Linked DNA regions of Homo sapiens. The protein of the gene in region 1 purifies or fractionates together with the protein of each later gene. This does not show direct contact. Each region holds a gene or a part of one and is shown in the gene's direction. Other genes may lie near its edges. The genes, in order: PGRMC1, MAP2K7, DUSP9 and BCAP31.

Region 1 (5,706 bases):
TTGCATTTAAAAGTTGTAAAATTTGTAAAAAATTTCTGAGTGTATTGAGGTTTCAGGTGAACAGGCCATATTGAAACTTGATCTATTCTCATACTTGGTTCCCTACAAACATTTTAATGTCAGGGCTGCTATTCAATCTGCCTTGGGGGAAACAACACATTGTTTAAAGTACACTGGATTCTCTTCATTTAGTTGTGCAATATTTAAATAAGTCTAAATATCCACTTTGTGTACCCACAGAATGATTCTCTGCTCTCTTAGACAAAAGTTCAGTATAATATCACAAATAATCACATTTTATAGAGTTGTTTTATAGAGTTGTTTTGCAGTATTGATTCAGCCTCTTTTCCATGAAAATTTTAGTATTTTCACAGTCTTCTCAAGCCCACCAAAAAACAGATAATGAAGACTGATCTCTGTGTTATCTATTTATTGACAGTGAAGGTTATGTAATGTGGATAGATTTTTAAACCACCGATACTGTTATAAAATGGTTCTTCTGCAGATGCCATGAGTTAATGTTTAATTGAGCCTTGGAACCAAAGATCTCTATAAGATACCTTTGTTTCATTAAAACATATCAGAATATATTCATAAGGAAATGTGTTTTCATGTACACATCAGTGCTTATTATCTTAAGAAACCATAACTCTCACTGGTGTAGCCCCAAGTGCCTAGAACTGTCAGGCTCCCAGTTCAATGTTCTTGTATGATTCCCTACTACCACTACCCCAAGAGATCACTAACCACGTATGACTTTTTTACTAGCTATTTGGAAACCACAGGAGACTGACGCAAATGTATAGCAGTTTGATTTACTTTTAGTTATTTAAAAGTTAAATGACAACAGGTCTTTCTGTGTCTCCTACATAATGTTCAGAATATCAGCATTACTATGGTTTCCTAATGGAATTTGATATTCAAAAATGGGGCTATGTTGATGAATAGGGAAGCCATTTTCTGTGTATAAATCACAGAGAAATTGACTGTCTAATAAAGAATTGATCTTTGGTTTTGTTTTTGAAGAGGGGCCGTATGGGGTCTTTGCTGGAAGAGATGCATCCAGGGGCCTTGCCACATTTTGCCTGGATAAGGAAGCACTGAAGGATGAGTACGATGACCTTTCTGACCTCACTGCTGCCCAGCAGGAGACTCTGAGTGACTGGGAGTCTCAGTTCACTTGTAAGCATTTTTAAAATTGTGTCTGGGTCAAATTTCTACCAGTAATGGGGATTCGTGGCAGGACAATAGTTATTACTAAGCAGCCTGAAACTTGGGTGCATTTTGATAGGCTCCTTAATCTTGGACGCATCAAGTTCATGGCTTGAAGTAATTGTAGCAGTGCTGAGTCACTTGCTATGATTGCATACCAATTTTTAGCCAGTTCTCTATGGAAACTTGGGTTTCTGGTTTTGATTTTAAAATTTTTGAGAGATTTGCTAGATTCCAAATGAGGATTTGGTGCTTGGTGTGTCAGGGAAAGGACAGTGTCCATCTTGGCTACAGAAAGGGATTTTCATAAGCCCTCTCTTGTAGAGCTTGCCGTTTAAAAGCAGCCCACATCTCTGTTGAAGAATGGGAGACTTGTATTCTGTGAAACAGCTTCTCTTTGAATCTAATTGAACCTAACTATAGGCCTCATCTACAAATGATGCTTATAATGTGCCCAGCAGCAATGGTGTCTGCATTTTTAAAAAGAAAGTAAAAAGGAGATGCTTGTTTCTGGCTTATGCTATGGGCTGAGGTCTTTGGGGAGAAATAGGAATGAGGGGTTAAGTTCAGATTTTGAGAATTCAGGAATTGGTTTCTGTCAAATCTAACTGTTTAATTGTCACTCTAGCAATATTTCACTGCCAAGAATTTGAATAAGAGTCTTTCCCAGCTTTTATGAAACAGTATATAAAGACCATGAGCATTATTTGAAGATTTTTCATTTAAAATGTAGTTTTCTATGTGTGTTCTCTATAATCAGTTAAATATTACATGTTCTCTTGGCTATATCCAACCATTTTCTTTGAAAATAATGCTGACTTCAGAGAGAGTTCTGGATTAATAATTAGCCAGATGTGTCTCTGCCTTTGAGTTTTGGTCTCAAGCAGGCTACATATAACTTCCAAGTCTAGAGGCAAGTTTTTATACTTTGGAAAACATAGTTCAGTTACCTAATAGAGTCCCTAATTTTTGGCATCATAAGGATGCCTTTGTAATTAGTTTTCTATATGAAACCAGTGAATTGTAGTGTCTAACTTACAAAGCTCTATTTTCTAGGGCTTGCCTTCATCAGTGGGAGAAAAAGTGTGATTTTTTTTTTCCACTTTAAGGCTAGCCCCAGATGCTGTTGTGACACCTCAGCTACACTTAAAGTTGGTGTGGATTCCCCTTAAGGCAGGTTTCCCAGGAGCCACCTGGCTTTTATTTGTCTCACACAGTTCCAATTGTTCCCAACGGTTATTTCACACAAAAGCAGCTTTAGTTACCTGGTTAGACAGGTTGGTTACTCCTCTAATTCCTACTCATATTCAGGAAGAGGAGACTCTTGGCTTTGGACATTCAGATGATCGACCCTGCATTAGTTTGGCTACAGTGATGAGGTGGTTTGCTGATGCCATCTCTTCTCAAGTCTTTTGCATTCTGGTTTGCACCCTTACATCTGTTTTCTCCAACACCTCCAGTCATCTCCTGGCTCCTTTACCACTTCCTTTAACCACCCATAGGTTTTTCTCTGTGCTGGGAAAAACGTTCTGTCTCTTGCTCTCCTCTTCATCTATGAGACTATTATTCCTTCCTTTCACTGTCAAACAAACTTCTTACAAGTTTTTATTCCTAACCACTACTTCATTTCCTCTCTATACCTTCTTCCTCCCTACAATATGGCTTCTATCCCCACAATTGGATTGAACTCTCTTTCTGAAAGATTTTCAGGGAAACCTTTTTTTTTTTTCTTGCCAATCCTGACTTCACTTGTCCATTCCATGTTTTAGATCTCCTGTCATGTGAGCCTCCAGAATGGCTCCCTCCACAGAGTTCCCATTTTGGTCCATGGGAGCTCCAATTTTCACTTAATTAATTCATGCTTCCAGTTTTCTTTCAAAGTACTTCTCATCTGTCCCTTTCCATTCCCCTGGACACCACCCTGCTCCTGGCGCTGGTTCCTTTGCATCTGGATCTGCACTCTGCCTCTGGATCGCCCTGTTCCCAGTCTCTCCTTACTGAAATCTGCCCTATACACCACATTGATAATATCGTTGTTAAAGCACTATTTTACTGTGTCATTCCTTCGCTTATAAACCTTCAGTGCCCTTTGCCACCTATAAGTCCAAACTCAGGCTGGCTTTTCAGATCTTTCATAATATTTCCCCACACTACTTAGCCAATCTTATCTCCTACTAACTTCTAAATGTTAACTCTACTCCTGCCAACTTGGTCTCTTCATTGCTTCCCAGATACGTTGTCTCACCTGTATGCATTTGTACATGGCGTTTGCATTTTCTGGAACTCCCTCCCTAAATCCTTCTATACATTTTTCCAAAATATATCCTCCTTCCATGAAGTATTCTGTAACCCTTCTGATGAACTCATCACTTGCCCTTGTTCTTCTAAACATTCCTTACACACAAACAATTCATTTTGACGTTACCTTGCACACTCATTGCCAGACGTTGCCACCTGTTTTATATGTCTGTCTTCTGAACAAAACAAATTCCCTGTTGGCAAGGACGGTGGTATAAACCACCTTTGTATCCTTCAAGAAGCCCAACACATTGCTGAGTATATTGCAGGCCTCTAATAAATGCTTTAAATTGAAACGTGGTAATGATGTTTTAGAAAGAATGAGAATGACCATTTGTGTTTTCTTCTCTACCTCCAGTCAAGTATCATCACGTGGGCAAACTGCTGAAGGAGGGGGAGGAGCCCACTGTGTACTCAGATGAGGAAGAACCAAAAGATGAGAGTGCCCGGAAAAATGATTAAAGCATTCAGTGGAAGTATATCTATTTTTGTATTTTGCAAAATCATTTGTAACAGTCCACTCTGTCTTTAAAACATAGTGATTACAATATTTAGAAAGTTTTGAGCACTTGCTATAAGTTTTTTAATTAACATCACTAGTGACACTAATAAAATTAACTTCTTAGAATGCATGATGTGTTTGTGTGTCACAAATCCAGAAAGTGAACTGCAGTGCTGTAATACACATGTTAATACTGTTTTTCTTCTATCTGTAGTTAGTACAGGATGAATTTAAATGTGTTTTTCCTGAGAGACAAGGAAGACTTGGGTATTTCCCAAAACAGGTAAAAATCTTAAATGTGCACCAAGAGCAAAGGATCAACTTTTAGTCATGATGTTCTGTAAAGACAACAAATCCCTTTTTTTTTCTCAATTGACTTAACTGCATGATTTCTGTTTTATCTACCTCTAAAGCAAATCTGCAGTGTTCCAAAGACTTTGGTATGGATTAAGCGCTGTCCAGTAACAAAATGAAATCTCAAAACAGAGCTCAGCTGCAAAAAAGCATATTTTCTGTGTTTCTGGACTGCACTGTTGTCCTTGCCCTCACATAGACACTCAGACACCCTCACAAACACAGTAGTCTATAGTTAGGATTAAAATAGGATCTGAACATTCAAAAGAAAGCTTTGGAAAAAAAGAGCTGGCTGGCCTAAAAACCTAAATATATGATGAAGATTGTAGGACTGTCTTCCCAAGCCCCATGTTCATGGTGGGGCAATGGTTATTTGGTTATTTTACTCAATTGGTTACTCTCATTTGAAATGAGGGAGGGACATACAGAATAGGAACAGGTGTTTGCTCTCCTAAGAGCCTTCATGCACACCCCTGAACCACGAGGAAACAGTACAGTCGCTAGTCAAGTGGTTTTTAAAGTAAAGTATATTCATAAGGTAACAGTTATTCTGTTGTTATAAAACTATACCCACTGCAAAAGTAGTAGTCAAGTGTCTAGGTCTTTGATATTGCTCTTTTGGTTAACACTAAGCTTAAGTAGACTATACAGTTGTATGAATTTGTAAAAGTATATGAACACCTAGTGAGATTTCAAACTTGTAATTGTGGTTAAATAGTCATTGTATTTTCTTGTGAACTGTGTTTTATGATTTTACCTCAAATCAGAAAACAAAATGATGTGCTTTGGTCAGTTAATAAAAATGGTTTTACCCACTATAGTGTGGTGACTTATTTAAATTTTTTTAAAAACCTTATTCTAGGGAATCTGATTCAGACATTTTACTTTGGCTTAAAATTCAGTTTCATTTTTGAGTGCAGAGTTTTTGTATTCCAAAAGAAACAAGGGGCAAAATTTCATGGAGACCCCACACCAAAAACCAAATACCAGCTTGTCCTGTTTAAGAAATAGTGAATTGAATTGCTTTTTTTGTGACTTGTCAAAGTTTTGCCTAAATCAGAACTTTCTAAACTGTAAATGGCAGACCTCCACCTTGAAGTCTATAGCAAGGTTCTTAAGAAGTAAGGTTACTGAAGGCATTGTCATTGCCAAGTGCTAAGGAAGGGTTTGGGTTTTTTTGTGTTAATGTATTGTCTGATCAGGAAAGTATCAGGAATCCTTACAGTAGCAAAGTTAATTCACCTCGTGTCAAAAGAAGCATAACAGATTTGCATATGCAGTCAGTTGTATAAACAAAGACAACCTATTAGTGTTTTGTCATTTTAATGTTAACATTGGCA
Region 2 (7,024 bases), on another chromosome or scaffold:
TCCACTAAAAATACAAAATTAGCCGGGCATGGTGGCACATACCTGTAATCCCAGCTACTCGGGAGGCTGTAATCCTAGCTACTCGGGAGGCTGAGGCAGGAGAACCGCTTGAACCCGGGAGGCGGAGATTGCAGTGAGCTGAGATCGCACCATTGCACTTCAGCCTGGGCAACAAGAGCAAAACTCCATCTCAAAAAAAAAAAAAACATAAAAGATTAGGTGGAGGTTGCAGTGAGCTGAGATCGCGCCACTGCATTCCAGCCTGGGCAACAGAGCAAGACTCCGTCTCAAAAAAAAAAAAAATTTAAAAAGCGTCTTGAAGGAGTTGGGGGGGGAGAGAAGACAGGGCCGCCAGGGCTCTGAGCGCAGCGCCAGCCTGTGTGGGGCATGCAGGCTGTGCCCCACGCCTGTGTTGGGAGAGAGAGTAGATGGGGTGCCTGGCCCTGTGAGTGGTTGTGAGTATGTGTGTCCGAGGGCAAGGGGGACTCTGTCCCGGCTGCATGGGTGTTAGGTCCACGGCATGCCCCGGGTGTGTGTTGTGCGTGCGTGCACTTGCACGGCATGTGCGTGCATGTTGACATGGCAGCCGGTGCACCTGTGGCTCCTGTCGGCAGACACGTGCCCTCCAGCCTCTCGCTCTCTCTCATCCGTTCTCTTTCTCATCCTCACCCTCTTGCTCTCACTCCACCCTCCTGAGCTGCCATGTGGCCATCACCACCTCTGTGGCCTCTGTTCTCAGGGCCTTTGTGTACCTCCTTCCCCCAGTGCCTACCTGAACCCTCCCTTCCATCCCCCCATGCTCCAGTCTGTGGTCCGGCAGCCTCCTCCCCAGGCTCCGGGGCCACCCTCGGAAGGCCTGGTGGGCTCTGTCAGGGAAGGGGCCCACAGGACTCCTCGAGGGCTGTGGTCGTCAACCGCTGAGTGCAGGGTGTGAGCGGGACTCGGATACTCTCTGAGGGCGGGAACTAGGCAGTGTCTCAAGAGATGCCAGGTGCACAGGGGTTGGGGGCTGGGTTGGGGGGAGCACAGGCCCTCGGGAGCCAGAAGGGGACTGGGGCTGTGGCTCAGGCCATGGACAGAGCAGAGGCGCAGGGACCTGAAGAAGCAGAGGGAGAAGCCTGGCCAACATAGCGAGACCCCATCTCTACTCAAAAGACAAAAATTAGCTGGGTGTGGTGGCGTGTACCTATAATCCCAGCTACTCAGGAGGCTGAGGCAGGAGAATCACTTGAACCTGGGAGGGGGATGTTGCAGTGAGTTGAGATCACGCCACTGCACTCCAGCCTGGGTGACAGAGCGAGAACCTATCTCAAAAAAAAAAAAAAACAGTGGGAGGTGACGTGGTGCTGCAGAGGCGGCAGTGGCCAGGACAGCGGGAGGGGCACGGGAGGTGAGGCCTCTAGGCCAGTCATGAACGCTGGGCCTGGCTGTGTCCCAAGGTCCCCAGAGCCCTTCCCCTGCTCCTGCCTGGTCCTCCAGGAGGGGAGCTAGGGGGCACAGCTCCTGCAGGGGCTGGCAGGACCAGATAGGGGCAATGCTGGGCCTCCTGCATTGGGACTGAGGCGTCTTCCTGCCCCTCCTACTGGCTGAGATCAGGGTCCTGGGCACACGGGAGGGACGGGGTTTAGCTGCCAGCATGGAGCGGGTTTGTCTGTTCATATTAGTCCCTGGGCACCAGTCACCAGGAGCCTGCAGAACTGTGGGGAGAAAAGGTGGACGAGGCAGGAGGAAAAGAGGGGAGAGGGGCTTGTTGGCTGAGGGCTTTGGAGAGCGGCAGGCCCCAGCTCCTGTGGGAGGGGCACCTTGGTAGGTGTGTGTAGCCGTTGTCAGGGCCTCTAGGATGTGACGTGTCAGGATTGGCTCCTCTGGAGGCCACGTTAGCATCCCGGCCTCTGTTCCTGCACCCTGTTGCCAGCCCAGCCAGGGAGACCCTAGCTCCTCCGGGAAGCTGCCCTCCTGTCCCAGGCCCCTCTCTGGCCTGTCTCTGCAGCGCCTCCTCTGGGCACCTGGGCCCTAGTCTTGGTTCCTGTCTGTCTGTCTGTCTCCTGCCCTCCCACCCCTAATGCCGCCTGCCCACCCCAGGGTGCCTGCTGCCTGCCCGCCGCCTGCCCACCCGCTGTAGCATGCCCGAGCTGCCCGCATGCAGGCTGCTGGATGAGCCAACCCCCGCCTGGCCCAGCATTGGCCCCACCTGGTCCCGCCAGCCCCTGCAGGAGCTGTGCCCCCGAGCTCTCCTCCCAGAGGATGCAGGCCCCCTGAGGTCCTGTCCTGCCCCCATGGGCCCCAGCTCTGCAGGCCAGGCCAGGAGGCCCTCATGTCAGCCCACTGGCCCGAGGGGGGCCCTCCCTGACCCCGGAACAGAAGATAGGGCAAGGCAGCCTGAAGCCTGGGTCTCGTGCCCGCTGCCTCCCCAGCGTGGCCCTGCTCGCTCTTGTCTGGGAGCCAACTTCAGTGCTACCAGCAGAGCCACAGCCTGGGCCAGCCCTGGCAGGCACTCCGCCCTGGCCTATCCATCCTGTGGGTGCTGTGGCCCTGGGCCTGCTTCCTGGGCAGAAGTGGGAGGAAGTGCACACACCTGTCAGGGAGGCCCCCTGGCCGAGGGACACCTCAGGTCCCCATCTCGTTTCTCCGTCAGCGTAGACTTGGGGCTCCCTCTCCCCTGCTAGCCTCCTCCATCTCTTTCCAGGTCAGGGGATGAGACAAGGGACCCTGAGAACAGTCTGGGGTGGGAGGGAGACCCCAGCTCCTCCAGCCCAGCAGGGCAGGGGGCTGTGCCAGCCTAGCTCGGGAAACCCAGGAGGGGAAGGTGAGGGTCCCGACCCCTCCCTGGAGTGCCAGATGTGGAGCTGACACCAGCTGGGCGCTGACCCCCCTCCCTGCCACTGGTTCTCACCCCCCTAGCCCTGCAGCTCCCGCTGGCCAACGATGGGGGCAGCCGCTCGCCATCCTCAGAGAGCTCCCCGCAGCACCCCACGCCCCCCGCCCGGCCCCGCCACATGCTGGGGCTCCCGTCAACCCTGTTCACACCCCGCAGCATGGAGAGGTGAGCCAGGGGCCCAGCAGGGTTGGGTGGGAAGCAGCATTGAGGGGCCACCGTGCCAGCCCTGGGAGGAGGGTGGTTAAACCGGTGGGAACCCCGGTATGGGGGACTGGGGTGGCCAACCTAAGGTCAGGACCCACCTCCACCGGCACCTGCTCCATGTCCCCAGCATTGAGATTGACCAGAAGCTGCAGGAGATCATGAAGCAGACGGGCTACCTGACCATCGGGGGCCAGGTACCACCTTCACTGTGGCGGGGAGAGGGAGGAGGCCCAGCCAGGCTGGACCCATCCTGGGAGCGCCAGTGGGGGGCAGGGGGCGGTGGCAGAGGCCCCAGGGACCCTCCAACCCTCCCTCTCCTCCCAGCGCTACCAGGCAGAAATCAACGACCTGGAGAACTTGGGCGAGATGGGCAGCGGCACCTGCGGCCAGGTGTGGAAGATGCGCTTCCGGAAGACCGGCCACGTCATTGCCGTTAAGGTGAGCCTTGGCGGCTACCCCGGCTGCGCCCCACACCCCAGGCCGGTGCTGAGGCTCCCTCCTGTCCCTGCCTGTGCAGCAAATGCGGCGCTCCGGGAACAAGGAGGAGAACAAGCGCATCCTCATGGACCTGGATGTGGTGCTGAAGAGCCACGACTGCCCCTACATCGTGCAGTGCTTTGGGACGTTCATCACCAACGTGAGTACCTGGCCGCGCCCTGCAGCGTCTCCTCCTCCCTCACCCCTGCCCCTTCCTAGGGAGCAGAGCCTCTGGGGGGTGGGCCGGAAGACACAGCTCCCCCGGGTGCCCCTCTCCCTGCAGACGGACGTCTTCATCGCCATGGAGCTCATGGGCACCTGCGCTGAGAAGCTCAAGAAGCGGATGCAGGGCCCCATCCCCGAGCGCATTCTGGGCAAGATGACAGTGGCGGTGAGTGACCAGGCGGGGCTTGCACTGGGCAGGATGACAGAGGCGGTGAGTGACCAGGCGGGGCGTGCACTGGGCAAGATGACAGTGGCGGTGAGTGGCCAGGTGGGGCGTGCACCGGGCAGGTGGCCTTGGGTCTGTGCCCCCTGCCACATGCACCCCCCTCTGCGTGCCTGCAGATTGTGAAGGCGCTGTACTACCTGAAGGAGAAGCACGGTGTCATCCACCGCGACGTCAAGCCCTCCAACATCCTGCTGGACGAGCGGGGCCAGATCAAGCTCTGCGACTTCGGCATCAGCGGCCGCCTGGTGGACTCCAAAGCCAAGACGCGGAGCGCCGGCTGTGCCGCCTACATGGCAGTGAGTGGGGGCCCCCCAGCGGGGGAGGGGGTGGGGGCTGGGAGGCCGGCCCCAGCCTTGGAGATACGTCTTCTCCTCCCCCCCCTGCAGCCCGAGCGCATTGACCCCCCAGACCCCACCAAGCCGGACTATGACATCCGGGCCGACGTATGGAGCCTGGGCATCTCGTTGGTGAGTTGGGGCCCTCCCCTGTTCTCCAGCCAGGAGTGAGGGCTTCTGGGGGACTCGGAGGGAGGAGAACATAAACCTGTCCAGCCCTGCCCGTCTCCCTCCCAGGTGGAGCTGGCAACAGGACAGTTTCCCTACAAGAACTGCAAGACGGACTTTGAGGTCCTCACCAAAGTCCTACAGGAAGAGCCCCCGCTTCTGCCCGGACACATGGGCTTCTCGGGGGACTTCCAGTCCTTCGTCAAAGACTGGTGAGAACCTCCCTCCACTTGGGAGGTCAGGGACAGCCCGCTGCTCTGGGCAGCTGGGGAGGCAATGGCAGGAGGGGAATGGAGGCCGCACCCTGGGATGGGCGGATGCGACTGTGGGCGGGCTCCTGGCTGGCGGCTGCCACAGGAGCTGGAGCTGGTGCCCAGGGAGCCATGAGCTGGGTTTGGACCTAGCCTGAGGGGACAGCCAGCCCTGTGGCATTTGGCGGGGTGGCTGTTGGAGATTGTGAGCACGCTTCTGCAACAAGCACAGCTACAAGTTCAGGAGGGCCATGTTCGATTCTCTCAGGGGAGCCCCACCCACCTTTCTGGGGGACCTCAGCCAGCTCTGGCCCCCCAAGCCAGGCCCTTGCCACCTGGCCCTAGGCCAGGAGGCTCCGGGACTCACAGTTGCTCCCCGCTGTCAGCCGGGGTCCTGAGGACATCCACAGCTCCTTCCCCCACACACATCTTGGGGACCCCTGGCCCCTTGGGGAGGGCCTGAGCACAGGGGTGGGGCCGGCATCCCCTCCTCCCTCGTTCTCACATCTGTCTTCCCTTCTCTTGCTCTAGCCTTACTAAAGATCACAGGAAGAGACCAAAGTATAATAAGCTACTTGTGAGTACCTGAGCCCTCCCAGTCCCCGTCCTGTCCCTGCGGAGGCGCGAGGCCAGGAGGGAAGACCGTCTCCTCCTAAGCCCCACCCCCTCGGGCCCACAGGAACACAGCTTCATCAAGCGCTACGAGACGCTGGAGGTGGACGTGGCGTCCTGGTTCAAGGATGTCATGGCGAAGACTGAGTCACCGCGGACTAGCGGCGTCCTGAGCCAGCCCCACCTGCCCTTCTTCAGGTAGCTGCTTGGCGGCGGCCAGCCCCACAGGGGGCCAGGGGCATGGCCACAGGCCCCCCTCCCCACTTGGCCACCCAGCTGCCTGCCAGGGGAGACCTGGGACCTGGACGGCCACCTAGGACTGAGGACAGAGAGTGGGGGGTGCCCACCCACCCCCCCCGCCCCGGGCCTACCAAGCCCCCGCCCTTCCCACCCCGGGGTCAGCCGGCCGTGTGCGTCCCCCGACAGACACTGTGAACGGAAGACAGCAGGCCGCGATCAGAGTCGCTGTTCATTCAGCCGCAGCCTCTGGGCCGGGGCGGCCCCCAGGGGCCAGGAGAGAGCCCTGGAGTCCCGCAGCCACCATGCACGCTCCCAGCGTGCTGTGTCCTTCGCCACTCCCACGCGCCCGTTCCTCTTCCGTCGCCCTCTGTCCCCTGCTCTACCTCTCTGTCCTTGTCTGGCTCTCCCGTCACCCTCCCTGCCTCTGTCTCTCTTCTGGCCTGAGCCTGGGCCCAGCCACCTCCTGACGGGTCCCCTGGGTCTGCATAGGTCTCCCATGGCGCAATGAGTCAGTGGCCCCCAGCCAGGCAGTGTGGGCATTGCCACTGCGGCTGGACGGGGCTGCGCGCTCGCGCTCTCTCTCTCTCTCTCTCTCTCTCTTTGATCTCAGGGGGTCCTTTTTGGAGTTTATTGTATTTTATTGTACTTGGTGGGGTGTTTGGGGTGGGGGCGGAGGAGAGCTTGTTCTCGTGGGGTTGTCGGTACCTTCAGAAACTTTTACCAAAGTCACGATTAGCTGCTTGTGGTGGGGCCCCAACCGCCCTCGGGCACTGGGGAGCTGGGCTGGGGCTGCTGCTCTGGGGTCTCCGGGGGCCACAGCTTGGGGTGAGTTGAAGACCTCAGGGGATGTGGAGGGGTCTGCGGGGCCCTGGCCGCACAGGATGGCCTTCAGGGAAGGTGGTCTTGGGGCATGGTGCAGAGCAGGTGACCGGAGGGAATCGGTGACGGAGCGGGGCCAAGGGAGGGGTCCGGAGGGAGTCAGGGATGGAGGGCAGAGGGAGTGGATGTGGGGGTTTGAGGACGTGTGACAAGCTCCAGCAGGGGTGGGGGCCGGGCTGAGGGTGGGGGTGCGAGGTGGTCACTCCCATCGTGCCCCTGGCCGTCCCTCCACTCACCCACACCTGGCCCAGTCCACGTTGAGGTCCAGGACTGGGAAGGACCGGGTGAGTGCACCGGGGACCCAGGCCAGGTGCCCCCCGGAGCCTGCTGGGGTGGCCAGAGCAGGAGGGGGTGTGTTTCCTTTTTGTGGGTGTTGCATGCAAATCAAGTGGACAAGAAAAAATAACAAAACAAAAAACAAGAAAAAAAAAACACAAAACCCCGTAAAATCACAAAGAAAATCCAACACCAAAGGCGCAGAAGCCGGCTGGCCGTGGTGGGGGCAGCGTAGGCGTAGCATCCCTCTCCT
Region 3 (7,820 bases), about 34 Mb from region 1:
TGGAGGGGAGGAGGCGGCGGCAGAGGCGGAGGAGGCAGCGGCGGCGGAGGCGGGATTTGGAGTTTCCCTCCGCAGCGGCGGCGGCGGCTGCCCCTCGGCTCCAGGAGAGGCCGCCACCCGGGGTTCCGGTGGCGTTAGGCTGCAGCAGTGGCGCTTCCCGCCGCCCGAGCTTCGGAAACTTCCCGGCCGCGACGCAGGGAACCGGCGCGGAGAACCGAGCAGAGCGGAGGTGAGTGGAGCAAGCGGCGCCCCGGGGACCCCCACCCCCCACCCGGCCTGGCTGCCCCCGCCCCGACGTGCGCTCCTCCACCCTGCACCCCCAAAGTCCTGACAACGCACACCCCACGAAGCCGGCGCACGCGCCCCTACGACACCCATTCGGTGCTGCTCCGCACACCCCCGCACGCCGCCCGTGCACCTCCCGTGTCTCCTGCCACTTGCACCGGCTGCACACTCGCGCGCATACAAACCACGCACCACAGACCCGGGTGCCTGTAGTGCACACACTAGCTGCCCCTGCCCCACCACTCACCACTGTCCCCAACTCATGCCAACCCACCGAGACCCTGCCACGCCCCAGTACACACCCAGGCGCACACGCACGCTTCCAACACGTCTCTGCCATACCTGCACCAACATAGCTCCCCCTACCATGCCCCCACCACCTCGAACTCCCCATCTGCCCATTACAGACACCCCACCCACGTTGCCAGCCCAGAGACACTGCAGTCCACCCATCCTGGAGCGAGGTCCCGTCAGAAACCCACATCCCAGTGGCTGACGCTCCCCACGTCCCAGGCACACACCTCCAGCATCTCCAACGCGCACTCTCATCCACCCCAGCACGCGCGCACACCTGCTGGATTCACGCTCTCCAGCATCCTGCCCCGCCCCCATCACAAATAGCCTTCGACACCCCCCAGCACATCTCTGAGTCCCTCCCTCCCTCACCCCCAACACCTGGCACGCGGGCTCTAGAGGCTGCAGCATTTGGTGGCATCCCTGCCAGGCACCTCTGGCTCCCCTTCGGCAGAGGCTCAGCAGCCTTGGGCCCCCCAGGTGCCTCCCTAAACAGACCTTGAGACTCCCCAGCGACTAGCTTGGCCTCTTCCCTAAGAAATAAAGAAGGCACTTTGGGGTCCAAGGTAGGGTACTTAGATGTGGAAGCAAGGGGCCCCGGGGAGGGGCGGGGAGGCGGCGGAGAGAGCCCGGCGCTGAAATGGAGGCGGCCCAGGTGGGACCAAAGGGGCGCCAGCTGCCCGGCAAGCACGTAGTAGGTGGGTTCCATGGGGGCTGGCGTCCGCGCGCGCTGTCTGGGTGCCTGCCTGCGTGTGTGTTACGGGGAGGGCTGTGTGTGCACGTGTGCTTGTGCGTGTCGGGGTGGGGGAGGAGTGTGTGATCGGCAGAAGGAAAAGCAGGAGCAGCTCCCTCAGGCAACAATTGGTTTCATTCATTCATGCCTTCTTTGTTAACGAGCATTTCTTCCGCGAGCGCCGGGCGCGTGCCAGGCCCTGCACTGGGGGCTGGGGCCAGCCTGGGGCCGGGCACACACCCGTTCCTGCCTTGGAGGAACTCCCAGTCCCGCGAGGAGACCGACCAGGAAAAGCAGAAAGCCATCCCCAGCAGAAAGTGGATTTGGTGGAAAAGACACTGGATTTGGCAGGCACGCTGTCGCCGGGACTTGTGCTCTTGGCCATGTGACCCGGCCGCGACAGCCGAAATCCTGTCACTCGGCCCGGCGGGAACGGTGCATCTCGTGGGGGAAGGCGGCGCGGCGCCGCTCTCGGGAGGCTCCCGGGACCAGAGGGCGCACGCGGCGCGCGCGAGGCCTGCAGGCGGCGGCGTCCCCGCGGCCTCCAGGGGGCGCTGGCCCGGCCCGGCGGAGGCCCGGGGCGCCCGGCGGGGGCGGGTGCGGGGGCGGGGGCGGGGGCGGCAGGCGCAGCGCCCACCCTGCGGCGGGCAGCGAGCGCGCGGCCTGGCTCAGCCCGCCGGAGGGGGCCAGACGAGGCCCGGGCGCGCGGCGCGGCCTCCCCCAGCACAGCGCACCCGGGAGCGGCTGCCGGCGGGGCGGCGCCCAGAGCCGGCGCTACAGGGGGCCTGAGTGGGGGCGGCCCGGCGAGGGTCGCGGGTGAGAGGGGGATTAGGGGGTTGGCTGCGCTCAGCCCTGCAGTGCGGAGGTGGCAACAGGTTCCCATTTGTCCTGTTGCTGGCGCTGCGGGCGCTGTGGGCCCCGAGCACTGAGCTCTGACTTTGGAAATTGAGCCCCTCATGGCCTCCTCCCAAATGCTTTCTCCCGGTGCGAGGACTTGGCAGCAGGGCTCCGCAGTTAGGTGCAGGGGAGCCCCTCGCCAAGCGTCGGGAGACGTGGACCCTTGGATCCTAGGCTTCCCCTCCCTTCCCCATTGCGGAGGTTGCCTCTCCCCGTCCTCATTCCAGCCCAGCTCCTCTCACCTCCAGGGAACCCTCTCCAGAGAGCGCCACTGAGCAGCTCAGGAGCTCCCTCTCTAGCCGAACTGAGCCCCCACGGCAGGGCGGGCCGGGGAAGTGGCTGTCCAGCTCCCTGCTGGTCACAGCCCTGCGCCACCCCCACTCTCCACAACAAGACTGGCACATGGCAGAACCTCCGTGGTGCCTTCAACCCCTGCCCACTCTGAGCTCCCACCCACAGCTGCAGTGGGCCTGGAGGCAGCCCCCAGGCTGGGTGCCGGTGTCCACCTCCACCACTGTGGAGCTAGGCTGTGGACAGAAAACAGAAGACAAAGTCCCTGCCCCAGGAACACACTGAGAAAGGGGGAAAGTGACCACACTAGGGAGCACAGAGGAGGGAGACTACTGGCTCCGAGTTGGGAAGGCTGCCTGGAGGAGGGGGCCTGAAGAATGAGCAGAATCTCAGAATCTGGGCAGGGGGCATAGGAGGGAGGCCTGGGCTGGGGCCCTTGCCCACTGGGTGAGAGAAGGAAGGGCACAGTCCAGCTGCCCAAAGCCCTTGGATGCAGGAATTAGGACTCTTGTTAGACGCAGGGACATGGGGGGTGTGGCCGGAAAGCAGCCCAGTGCCAGGGTCCTGGGAGTCCCCGGCTAGCAGCCCACTGCCCGAAAGGGAGGGAGAGAGGCAAACTGGAAGCCCCTTAGAGGTGACCCACCTAGCTTTCCGTCACCTGCCCTCTTACCTAACCATGACCTGAGACATTTTCTCCTCTAACTCCATGGCTCCTGAGAGGAGTCTTTAGACTCGTAGTTTGCTTTGCATTTTCCACTTGTTAGAAAAATGCTTTGTGGTGCCCATCCTCGTGTGCATAACTTTGCTTTCTTTTACTTTAGTTCCTTAGATTCCCAAAAGTGGTCAAAGGGTTGGGATTTTTTCCTAGCTCTTGATATTGCCAGATTAATTTCCAAAGGGGCCGTACCAATATATAACCCTGCAACAGTTGAACAGCACGCTGATTTCACAGCAATCTTGCCAGCACTGCGTGTTCTCAAAAATGAGAACATTTCTAATGCAGTAGGTGGGAAGTGTTACCTCGTTGGTCATTGTTACTTGTTTATTGGAGTGGCTTTCCTTCCACGCCTGAAGTTGAACCTTCCCCCAAATATTTGTTAGGCCACCGCATTCCCTCCTTCCTGCAGTATGCAGTGTTTTCAGGTTCTTTGCCCATTTATCTACAGGGGTCTTAACCTTTTAGTTGGGTATGAGCTTTATCTTATCTGGCGTACATTTTCCTTCAACACTGTTATTTGCTTTTGTTGAGCTTTAAGCAGAGAAGGGACTTTTAGCCAGATCAGCATTGTGGACACCTCCCCCTGACCCTGGTCTCCTGCCTCAGTGCTCACCACACCTGAGACCTTGTCCAGTGCTCTTGCTGCCTGTGGATCTGTCCCGCCTGTTGTGCCCATGGAGGAAAGGATGGAGGCCACCAGCCTTGGTTGAGTGGATGGCATTCTGACGTTGGGCAGGGCTGGGCAGGGCAGGGTGGAGGGCAGGTCGTTGCAGGCCCGGAGGCAGGGAGACTGTTGTGCAAGACGTGACAGTGACCTGGCCTAAAGCTGATGAATTTGAGCCCTCGGCTAGGGCAAGGGACAGGGGAGAGAGGCGTGGATGTGAGAGATATTTAGGTAGAAACTAGTTCTTTCCACTTTGATTAGCCGAAGGGGGGTTAAGGGAAGGAGGCAGAGGGGGGAGCCACGGGTGACTCTTAGGATCAGTAATGTGATAAGAGCAGAGTGCCCCAGTTTAGGGCTGGGAGCTCAGGGTTCCTGGGTGCTTTTGGCCAGTCCTGTGCGAGTGAAGCGGGCTGGTATTGGTAGGTATCCAGGAGCTACCCCTGCCTGCCTAGCCCTGCAGCAGACCTCTGGGCCAAAGCTGCACTAAGTTTCTGGTCCTGCCTCCTCCTCCCCTCCGTGATTTCGGTGGCATCCCAAGTTTGCCCAAGCTGCTAGCTCTGAGCCCATTACAGAGATGGGGCCACTGAGATCCAGGCAGGGGAGAAGATGCTCCAGTATCACCCTGTGAGTTGGGCTGGAGGCAGCTTCTGCGGCAGAGGGGCTGGGCTCTGGTCCTCACCCCTCCCCCTGCCTCCCGAGGCCAGGCTGGCGCCGGCCAGGGGAGCCGCAGCTGGTCCCCTGCTGGGCCCCTGACCTGCCCTTGGCCTCTGCCCCGACCCCGTCCCGCCTCGGTGGAAGCCCCAGCTCAGCCGACTCGCAGGTCCCACCCGACTGCTTCGGCTAGCACCCGTTGGCTCACCGGCCCGCCGGGCCCGCCCCCGGAGCCCCGCCCCGGCCCGCCCCTCGGAGTTGTAACTCCACGTCCGAAGGCAGTTTCCAAGGTGGAAGCTGGGTCCGGCTGCCAGGAAGCGGCCGGTGCGCGGGCTGCGCGGGCTGCGCGGGGCTCGGCTTCCACGTGCGAGCCTGCACCGCCGCCCCGCCCTCTCCTGGCGGCCAGGCCTGGGGACTCTCTGCCGCGGGACGGCGCCTCGCGTTCCGCCGTGGCAGTGGCCGTGGCCAGAACGTCCACGCGCGGTCGTCCACCGCCGGATCTCGCTCCAGGTCTCTTTCCTTTTGTTCTCTCCTAGGGGTAGGGGGAGATGGGGGACCGGGGGCCAGACCACCTCTGAGAGGACTCGCTGAGGCCCAGCACCTCGGCGCCTCCTCTGTTCCCCTGGCCCACCTGGCCCTGGGGGAGATCTAGGCCTCGAACGGCACTCCTCGCACGCACACCCCCAGCCAGAGTCGGAAGCTCGAACTTGGGGAGCGTTCGCGAGAAGACCGAGACAGGAGCAGAAAGGGGGTATGGAGGGAGGCGGCTGCGACCTCAGGGTACCCCAAGATGAGCCTCGAAGGGGCGGTTAGCCGCTCAGCCCTCTTCTCGAGGACCCTTCCCCGGGCCGAGCTGCTGCCTGGGGGGTTTCTTGGGGCGCCTTGTTGGGAGTCCTCATGGTGGGGGACCCTGGGCTCCCGCCTTCAGGACGCGGGGCCGGCTTCAAGTCTGAGCCCCCTCGGCCCTCCGGTAGCTCACACCGCGCCTTCTCTCTCTTCGCAGCGCCCGTGGTCCAGCGTGTAGGGAGCCGATCGCCCATGGAGGGTCTGGGCCGCTCGTGCCTGTGGCTGCGTCGGGAGCTGTCGCCCCCGCGGCCGCGGCTCCTGCTCCTGGACTGCCGCAGCCGCGAGCTGTACGAGTCGGCGCGCATCGGTGGGGCGCTGAGCGTGGCCCTGCCGGCGCTCCTGCTGCGCCGCCTGCGGAGGGGCAGCCTGTCGGTGCGCGCGCTCCTGCCTGGGCCGCCGCTGCAGCCGCCCCCGCCTGCCCCCGTGCTCCTGTACGACCAGGGCGGGGGCCGGCGCCGGCGCGGGGAGGCCGAGGCCGAGGCCGAGGAGTGGGAGGCCGAGTCGGTGCTGGGCACCCTGCTGCAGAAGCTGCGAGAGGAAGGCTACCTGGCCTACTACCTCCAGGGTAGGTGCCGCGGGGCCCTCCTTCCAGGGGGTTCGGGATTCATTTGACCTTAGGCCAGCCCCACTTCTTTTTTTCTAAAGCGAGTTGAGGCCCCCCTCCCCTGATGACCTGCCAGGCTGCTTTGAGAGGAGGGAAGCCTGAGTGTGACCGTGGGGAAGTTCTTCACCCTCGGCAGCCCAGTCTCTGAGCCTGGAAAATGGGGAGAATTAGCCTGACCTGAGCTAGTTCTCAGGATGCTCAAGAACGAATTACAAAGTGCGGGCTCCCCAGGGTCTCGGCAAGGGTATCCCCACCTCCCCAACCTGCTCAGGAATGAGCAAGGGAGGCAGGGGTCAGACAGCACTGGTGCAATCACGGCTCACTGAAGCCTCCTGGGCTCAAGCGATCCTCCTGCCTTAGCCTCCCGAACAGCATATAAAGTGTCAGGTGTCCAGCCCGGGGAAATAGTATCTGTAAATAGAGATGCTGGCTTCTTGAGCCATATTCTCCCCCAAGTTCCCCCACATCTTGGGGTCCCACTTCATCCCTGAGAGTCAGGAGATGCCCAGGCAGAGAGCTGACATCTGAGTTCCTCCTTTTCTTTAGCTGATGGCCGCAGTCCTCCCTAAGGCTGGCAGTGCATCTCGGCTCTGTTGAGCCCTCACACCTGCCTCAGCTTGACCCTAGGGGTGTAAGATCCTTTCCGGTGGCTCAGCGTGAGCCCAGCTTCTTGCAGCCCGAGCTGACTGAGGGTGGCTAGGGCCCCACGTGGGTACCAGGACACACCAAGCTGCTGGGTTTTGTGTTCCCTTTGGGAACATTTGCAAACCCTCCAAGTTGTCCAGGGTCATCTCCCCAGCCCCAGACAGAGGCACTTGGCTGCCCAGAAGGCCAGGTCAGCAGGCCCCATGCCCTCTCCCCAACAGGAGGCTTCAGCAGATTCCAGGCCGAGTGCCCTCACCTGTGTGAGACCAGCCTTGCTGGCCGTGCCGGCTCCAGCATGGCGCCGGTGCCCGGTCCAGTGCCCGTGGTGGGGTTGGGCAGCCTGTGCCTGGGCTCCGACTGCTCTGATGCGGAATCCGAGGCTGACCGCGACTCCATGAGCTGTGGCCTGGATTCGGAGGGTGCCACACCCCCACCAGTGGGGCTGCGGGCATCCTTCCCTGTCCAGATCCTGCCCAACCTCTATCTGGGCAGTGCCCGGGATTCCGCCAATTTGGAGAGCCTGGCCAAACTGGGCATCCGCTACATCCTCAATGTCACCCCCAACCTCCCAAACTTCTTCGAGAAGAATGGTGACTTTCACTACAAGCAGATCCCCATCTCCGACCACTGGAGCCAGAACCTGTCGCGGTTCTTTCCGGAGGCCATTGAGTTCATTGGTGAGTCCACCCCACCCACCCTTCCCTCCTGTCCTCCCCAAGGCCTGCTCTGGCCTCCCCCTTGTGAGTACTCCTCCCAAGCCCCGCTGCCATTCCCAGAGCCAAAAGCCTAGGTGACAGTTCTAGGGGACAGGCAGAGCTAGGGCGGCCCCCAGAGGCCACTAGAGAAACCTGCAGGTCGTGGCCATCTGGCCCAGGGGGCAGGGCGGGGCCTTTGAGGGCCCTTCGGAAGGCCTCGGCCTCACACACGCCTGCCCTCCGGGTCTCCCGGGCCCTTTCCTGCCCCATCTAGATGAGGCCTTGTCCCAGAACTGCGGGGTGCTCGTCCACTGCTTGGCGGGGGTCAGCCGTTCTGTCACCGTCACTGTGGCCTACCTCATGCAGAAGCTCCACCTCTCTCTCAACGATGCCTATGACCTGGTCAAGAGGAAGAAGTCTAACATCTCCCCCAACTTCAACTTCATGGGGCAGTTGCTGGACTTTGAGCGCAGCTTGCGGCTGGAGGAGCGCCACTC
Region 4 (7,024 bases), about 34 Mb from region 1:
AGTGCAGTGGCGCGATCTCGGCTCACTGCAACTTCCGCCTCCCAGGTTCAAGTGATTCTCCTGCCTCACCCTCCTGAGTAGCTGGGATTACAGGTGCCCACCACCACGCCTGGCTAATTTTCGTACTTTTAGTAGAGACAGGGTTTCGCCATGTTGGCCAGTTTGGTCTTGCACTCCTGACCTCAAGTGATCCACCCACCTTGGTCTCCCAAAGTGCTGAGATTACAGGTGTGAGCCATTGCACCTGGCCTTTTTTCCAATAGTCTTGAATGGATGTCAAATTAGAGAATTGCAAGCCACTGAGGCTGACTTTGCATGGGCTATTCGGCCATTGGAGAAGAGTACAAAGCTGGATTTCCATTTTGCTCAGGGCCCTAGAGCTCGTGTGTGTGCTTTCTCTTCAACTCCTGTCCTTTTTGTCTTCTTCACAGATGGCAGAAGATTTTCAAGTCCCGGCTGGTGGAGTTGTTAGTGTCCTATGGCAACACCTTCTTTGTGGTTCTCATTGTCATCCTTGTGCTGTTGGTCATCGGTGAGTGAGCTATGGCTGAGGGCAGCTACCTGACCTAGACCCTGGTCTCTGCTGCAAAACCCTTTGCCACTTTTGATGTGTAGCATCCAGTTTTGGCTGCTAGGAGACAGACCAATGAAATGCTGTGTCTTTCTCTTGAGGGAGGGAAGAGGCTCCCTTTGCCCATGCTGCTGACCGCTAGTCGGTTCTTCACTTTGAGGCCCCTCTAGGCCGTACATGGTGGCTCATGCCTGTAATCCCAGCACTTTGGGAGGCTGAGGTCGGTGGATCACCTGAGATGAGGAGTTCGAGATCAGCCTGGCCAACGTGGTGAAACCCCATCTCTACGAAAAATACAAAATTAGCTGGGCGTGGTGGCGGGCACCTGTAATCCCAGCTACTTGGGAGACTGAGGCAGGAGAATTGCTTGAACCCACGAGGCAGAGGTTGCAGTGAGCCTAAATCGCACCATTGCACTCCAGCCTGGGCAACAAGAGGGAGACTCCATCTCAAAAAAAAAAAAAAGAGGCCCCTCTAGCAGTGGGCGTGGGCTTATACCAAGCAGTTTGTATGCAGCTTATGACGGCCACCTTACATTGCTTTTTTTCAAGACCTTGGAAGGAGGGACGCCTAAGGTTTCTGAGGCTGCTCCTCAGGTCACTCTAGAACTGAAGCCAAGAGAAGCTAACTGGCCTGTGACCTTGGTCTGAGTAGTGCTGCTCACCAGTCACTTAAACAGCAGAATTGCCTGGAGCAGGGCCTCTAATGGGGGACTGAGCAACCAAGCACACAGTGAAGTCCTGCCATTCCCTGTAGTAGTAGGAGGAGAACACAGAGATGTGTGGCAGCATATCTTGGGGAGAGATCCTAGACCTCTCTGCATCTGGGCTAGACTTGAGGTTTTCCCAGGTCGTTCCAGCTCTGTAGTTCTGTAAACTCTGACATTGAGGTGTACACTAGCAGGTGCTTGAAAGATAAACTGGTCCAAGGGCAAGCAGGCTCTGGGATAAGGCCAGGCCAGGTGGTGGTAAGATGAAAGGCAGACATTTTGCAATGAGGTGGTAGGGTGACCATCTGGAGACAAGAATCAATAAAGCTCTTGTCTGACTGGTAGATGTTTGTTGTTTTGCTGTGGTAAGTGATCGATATGTCCCCCTGTTTGGGCTCCAAAGTATTGGCTTGGCTCTGCTGTGGACACCACTCTTGTCTCAGAGCTGTGGTGCCTGCCTAGGCGTGGAACACTCCTCCCACCGAGTCCCAGCAGAAACACTGAGCGGGTGGGGGGCTGTGGTTCAGGGGAATGTGCAAAGCCTCACCCACCAGCTTCAGCATTAGGCATTTCTCCTTCCTGATGTCTCAGAGCCTGATAGGATATGTTCAGGCTGGACTGCCTCTGAACAGGCCAAGTGTTACCTGACAGCTTCCAACCACATAGGGTAGGTGCCAGCTGCCTGAGCACCTCAGTGTTCTTGAAATACTTGGCAAGGCCCCAAGAGGTAGTAGCTCTTTCTAACCAGGGTTCTCGCCCTGAGCAGCCTCCAAGCCAGGAGTAGGTAGGTAATATATGTGTCATCCCCAGGCCACTGAGTTTTTGAACTGAGCATGTGTGTTTTGGCTTTTGGGTCTGGGGTGGGGGTAATAACTGGGGAGGGGAGGGACCATGCTGAGGATGATTCCCTCAGGGTCTTGCCCCTTCCCCAAACCAGAAGGAGTATGTTTCTTTCCTAGAGCAGCTGAGTGGGCTGGAGAGATCCTTTGCGGAATCCAGTAGTTGACAAAGCCTTCATTCTTTTTTGGGATCGGGGAACTGCTTGGAAGTTCTAGGGGGACATATGGCCATGATGACTGGCTGCTTCCTACTCCCATGTTAAGAAGCATAATCTAGAAAGATCTGCAGAGCCTTCTTCAAACAGAAGTGTTAGTCACAGGTACTAGTGAAGGGTAAGGGGCATAACTAGCTAGAGCTGTGGCCTTGCTTGGGGGTGGGGAGGGTTGAGCAGATCCTCCTGGAGGATGGAGTTGCTGAGGGTGCAGGATCTTCCCACCTGGGCTGAGGCCCGAGACAGGGAGGGCTGGTTTCTACTGTGGGACTTGGGTTAGTATTGCTCAGTCCCCCATCCCCACTATTGGTCATTGGCCAAGGTGGTCCTTAGGATGGTGGGGTTCCTGGATGCAGGTGACAGTGTAAGGAAACATGTTTATCTTGTTTTTCTGATTACAAAAATAATGGGTAATTATTCTTAAAAATTCAAAAGTTGAATTTAGAAAGTTAAACTCCCCATAATCCCATTTCCCACAGGTAACCATCATGAGTATTTTGTTGTGCATTTCCAGAGGGGTTTTGTATGCTGACATCTTTAATAAAATGTCTACAACGGTGGGATCATACACACAAAGTATTTATGTTTCTTTCCACATTCCTGCTGGGACATGGCAGGAGGAGCATTCCACGCCTGAGCTGGTAGCACAGCTCTGAGATAAGACTGCTGTCCATAGCAGAGCCTAGCCAATACTTTGGATTGTGCTTTTTCTACCTGCTGCACGTTAGACATCTTTTTTTTTTTTTTTTTTTTTTGAGATGGAATCTCACTTTGTTGCCCAGACTGCAGTGCAGTGGCGCCATCTTGGCTCACTGCAACCTCCGCCTCCCAGGTTCAAGCGATTTCCCCTGCCTCAGCTTCCGAGTAGCTGCAGGTTACAGGCGCCCGCCACCATGCCCGGCTAATTTTTTGTATTTTTAGTAGAGACGAGGTTTCACCGTGTTGGCCAGGCTGGTCTTGAACTCCTGGCCTCAAGTGATCCGCCCACCTCGGCCTCCCAAAGTGCTGAAATTACAGGCATGAGCCACTGTGTCCGGCCAACATCTTTTTATAGCAATCTCATTCTTCTTAAAGATCATGTAGTATTCTCTCATGTGGTTGTGCCGTAATCCATTCTTTATAAGCATCTTCGAATCATTGCAAATTTATGCAAATACTTCTGTGGGATAATTTCAGAGGTGAATTGTTGAACCCGAGGGTATGAACATTTTGCATTTTATACAGGTGTGCTGTTTTTACCCCTGCTAACAGCGTTTGAGAGTACTCGCTTCGTGGTGCTGAGGGATGGGCAGATTTTTATAATGCAAGATCAACATAAAAACTAAGCAGCCTAAAACCGGAAATTAAGAACCCCATGAGGCCAGTGCCCTGACTCACGCCTGTAATCCCCACACTTTGTGAGGCTGAGGCAGTTGCTTGCGCTCAGGAGTTTGAAACTAGCCTGGGCAACATGGCGAAACCCCGTCTCTACCAAAAATAGAAAAAGAAAAAATTAACTGAGTGTGGTAGCACACACTTGTGGTCCCAGTTACTGGGGAGGCTGAGAGGTGGAGGTTGCAGTGAGCTGGGATCGTGCCACTGCACTCAAGCCTGGGTGACAGAGTGAGACCCTGTAACCCACCATACAAAAAGAACCTCGATACCCATACAGTGATACCTTGCTCCTCTCATATGGGAGTCTATTAAGAGCATTCTTTGGGTACATCTTAGTGTATTGACTTAAAACGATGTCTCAGGATGCATGGGGAAAAGCAGTAGGTTTGGCGTGGCTCAATTTCTACATTAGAGACAAATATAAATATATTTTTAACTGGAGCTCTATATGTCTAACAGCGGCTCTTTCAGGAGCAGAGGCTGCTCACTGACTCAGCAATTATTTCAGTGCCCACTCTGCACCCAGAGCTATCCCAGGCCCTGGGAATATAGTATAAAAGATTTCTGCTCTTATGAAGTTTGTAGTCTACTTTGGGAGAGATGGACCCAAAAAATGTGTTTAAAGAGAATTTCAGAGATGGATGTCTATTACGAAGCAGGTAACAGTGTAATGTGACTAAAAATGACTTTAGATGTGACCACATTTTTATTGTATATACTGCTAGATGTGATTATGTTATGGGATCCTTTCCGTTTCTACATTTTGGGTGTGTTTGAACTTTCGATGAGTGTGAATTCCTTTCGTAATCAGAATAAAACATTATAGATAATAAAACCCATTGTAAAGCTTTGAAATGAAACCCTTGACTCCTAGCTGGTATCCTGCAGGTCTTGACTCCTATTTTTTTGTTTGTTTGCTTGTTTTGTTTTGGCTTTTTCGAGACAGAGTCTCGCTCTGTCGCCCAGGCTGGAATGCAGTGGTGTGATCGTAACTCACAGCAGCCTTGACCTCTTGGGCTCAAGCGATCTTCCTGTCTCAGCCTCCCGAGTAGCTGGGACTACAGGTGTGCAGCACCATGCCCAGCTATTTAAAATTTTTTTTTTTTTTTTTTTTTTTTTTGTTGAGAGAGAGTCTCCCTGTGTTGCCCAGGCTGGTCTTGAACTCGTTGGCCTCAAGCAGTCTTCCTGCCTTGGCCTCCCAAAGTGTTGGGATTACAGGCGTGAGCCACCACATCTGGCCTGGGTCTTGACTCTTAAGCACCTTAGGTCCCCGGAGCAGGCATTTCCATCTCCAGGTTCAACTTATCATTGTGGGGGTTGGGGGGCTATGGGCCAACTTGAGATGAACAGAACAAGACGCGGTGAGGGTACCATGGGAAAAGGAAGCCACCCCCATTTCCAGAAACTCTTTAGGCTTGGTTAGCATCGTGAACTGCAGAGCAAGCCTGGGGCCTGTGTAGAATGGGGCCAGGGATTGAAAAGCTGGAGGAAGGAGTGGGTCTGAGGGTGGGAGCTTCCTTTTTTTTTTTTTTGAGATGGAGTTTCGCTCTTGTCCCCCGGTCTGGAGTGCAGTGGCTCAATTTCGGCTCACTGCAACCTCCGCCTCCCGGGTTCAAATGATTCTTTTGCCTCAGCCTCCCGAGTAGCTGGGATTACAGGCGCCCACCACCACGCCGGGCTAAATTTTTTTTTTTTGTATTTTTAGTAGAGATGGGGTTTTGCCATGTTGGCCAGGCTTGTCTCGAACTCCTGACCTCAGGTGATCTGCCCGCCTCTGCCTCCCAAAGTGCTGAGATTATAGGCGTGAGCCACTGCACCTGGCCTGAGGGTGGGAGCTTCTGATAACAGCATCCCATGAGGGGTGTATGTGCATAGAAGTGGGAAGAACTGGGGAGGCGGATTTGAGGGAAGTGAGTCTGACCTGTCTCATGCCGCCTGTCTGCCTGGTATGGCCTTATCTTGCCCTAGTGTCCGCTAAATGCCCGTGTCTCCTCTCTGCTCCACCACAGATGCCGTGCGCGAAATTCGGAAGTATGATGATGTGACGGAAAAGGTGAACCTCCAGAACAATCCCGGGGCCATGGAGCACTTCCACATGAAGCTTTTCCGTGCCCAGAGGAATCTCTACATTGCTGGCTTTTCCTTGCTGCTGTCCTTGTGAGTGGGGGGTTGAGGGGGCAGGTGCTGTGAAAGGAGCCATGGGCTAGCCATGGACACCGAGCTCAGTGGGCTCAGTCTCCCCCCTGTGACTTTGATTCCTCCTCAGTCTGTGGCCTGGATCCCAAAGCCCTGTCTGTGTTAGGGAAGCCACATAGTTTTCTCCTGACCTCCAGAGGCAGCGTGGAGAGTAGGAGAGGGCTGCCTGAAATATCAGAAGACCCTCACACACCACATACTCTCAGGCAAACAGATGACTATCTCACGGTCTGTTTGCATGGAGAGTGAGATGTAACGGTAAGGCCTTGCCCTCCTCTGGGAGAGGACCTTCAGAGTCCAGCTCACAAGGGAGCGACTGAATGGGGGACTCTTTGTGTCCGGGGTGTTGACCTAGGGACAGCAGGTAAAAGTGGCACGAAGAGGCTGGGCCTCTCCTCACCTCAGGGCCTTCCCCACGTGAAACTCGTAATGAGGACATGTTACATTCCATGGCAGCCAGAGTATTTCTGATGATTTTTTTGGTAAAACTAAGTACCTTAATCAAGGCTAAGGGTAACTAGTCGGGCAAAACTAGACCACTACGAAGTGCCTATTTGAGCCTGGGGCCCTGTTTGCTGCCTCCTGCTTCACATAGCCGTTCTGATCAGCAGGGCCTGGCTGGGAGGTGGATGGGAGCTCAGACCATGTATGAAGGCATTGGAAAGGCGCTTGCTTTGAGGGTGGAGCTCTCATCACTTAATCACTTCTCAAAAGACCCCACCTCTTAATGCTACGGCAGTGAGGATTAAATTCCAACACATGAAGTTTGAAGGGCACTCAGACCATAGCACCAAGTGATTCTCAGGCTCATGGACAGTTATTCCCCACTTGGTTTTGTGCCCCGAGACTCAAGAATCTCCATGCCTAGGAGATTCTTGCTCTCTAGTCACCTGGTGTGTCCTGCTTTACTAGGCGCTACGATGACTACTTGTCTTAAAATCTGTTGTTTAGATGATCTGGTACTCTCTGCGACCAAGTTGGAAAGAGGGGTGGAGCTAGAAAAGGCAAACACATTTTTTTCAAGATAATGGGTTTGATCACAGATTTGATCTACAAGCTTGCTGTCTTCAAACTTAGGAAAGTCAGGAAGGCTGGGAGGAGTCAGACACATACCCTAAATTTT

Evidence for each region.
Region 2: the proteins of PGRMC1 (region 1) and MAP2K7 purify together in Homo sapiens (affinity purification with mass spectrometry; 2 studies listed by BioGRID and IntAct, with this or other methods). This does not show direct contact.
Region 3: the proteins of PGRMC1 (region 1) and DUSP9 purify together in Homo sapiens (affinity purification with mass spectrometry; 3 studies listed by BioGRID). This does not show direct contact.
Region 4: the proteins of PGRMC1 (region 1) and BCAP31 purify together in Homo sapiens (affinity purification with western blotting; 2 studies listed by BioGRID and IntAct, with this or other methods). This does not show direct contact.

What each region holds. Positions count from the first base shown.
Region 1 is NC_000023.11:119,239,283-119,244,988, forward strand, and holds the end of PGRMC1 (membrane-associated progesterone receptor component 1), read left to right. Parts: intron 1-1,026; coding exon 1,027-1,182; intron 1,183-3,868; coding exon 3,869-3,972; 3' UTR 3,973-5,184; downstream 5,185-5,706. UniProt on the Homo sapiens protein: Component of a progesterone-binding protein complex. Binds progesterone. Has many reported cellular functions (heme homeostasis, interaction with CYPs). Required for the maintenance of uterine histoarchitecture and normal female reproductive lifespan.
Region 2 is NC_000019.10:7,906,854-7,913,877, forward strand, and holds part of MAP2K7 (dual specificity mitogen-activated protein kinase kinase 7), read left to right. Parts: intron 1-2,901; coding exon 2,902-3,043; intron 3,044-3,209; coding exon 3,210-3,276; intron 3,277-3,406; coding exon 3,407-3,520; intron 3,521-3,599; coding exon 3,600-3,719; intron 3,720-3,842; coding exon 3,843-3,950; intron 3,951-4,126; coding exon 4,127-4,306; intron 4,307-4,396; coding exon 4,397-4,477; intron 4,478-4,561; coding exon of another isoform or gene 4,562-4,582; coding exon 4,583-4,725; intron 4,726-5,295; coding exon 5,296-5,341; intron 5,342-5,443; coding exon 5,444-5,578; 3' UTR 5,579-7,024. UniProt on the Homo sapiens protein: Dual specificity protein kinase which acts as an essential component of the MAP kinase signal transduction pathway. Essential component of the stress-activated protein kinase/c-Jun N-terminal kinase (SAP/JNK) signaling pathway.
Region 3 is NC_000023.11:153,642,383-153,650,202, forward strand, and holds the start of DUSP9 (dual specificity protein phosphatase 9), read left to right. Parts: upstream 1-4,820; 5' UTR 4,821-5,043; intron 5,044-5,536; coding exon of another isoform or gene 5,537-5,571; coding exon 5,572-5,944; intron 5,945-6,849; coding exon 6,850-7,305; intron 7,306-7,597; coding exon 7,598-7,820. UniProt on the Homo sapiens protein: Inactivates MAP kinases. Has a specificity for the ERK family.
Region 4 is NC_000023.11:153,714,380-153,721,403, reverse strand, and holds part of BCAP31 (B-cell receptor-associated protein 31), read left to right. Parts: intron 1-431; coding exon 432-532; intron 533-5,714; coding exon 5,715-5,862; intron 5,863-7,024. UniProt on the Homo sapiens protein: Functions as a chaperone protein. Is one of the most abundant endoplasmic reticulum (ER) proteins.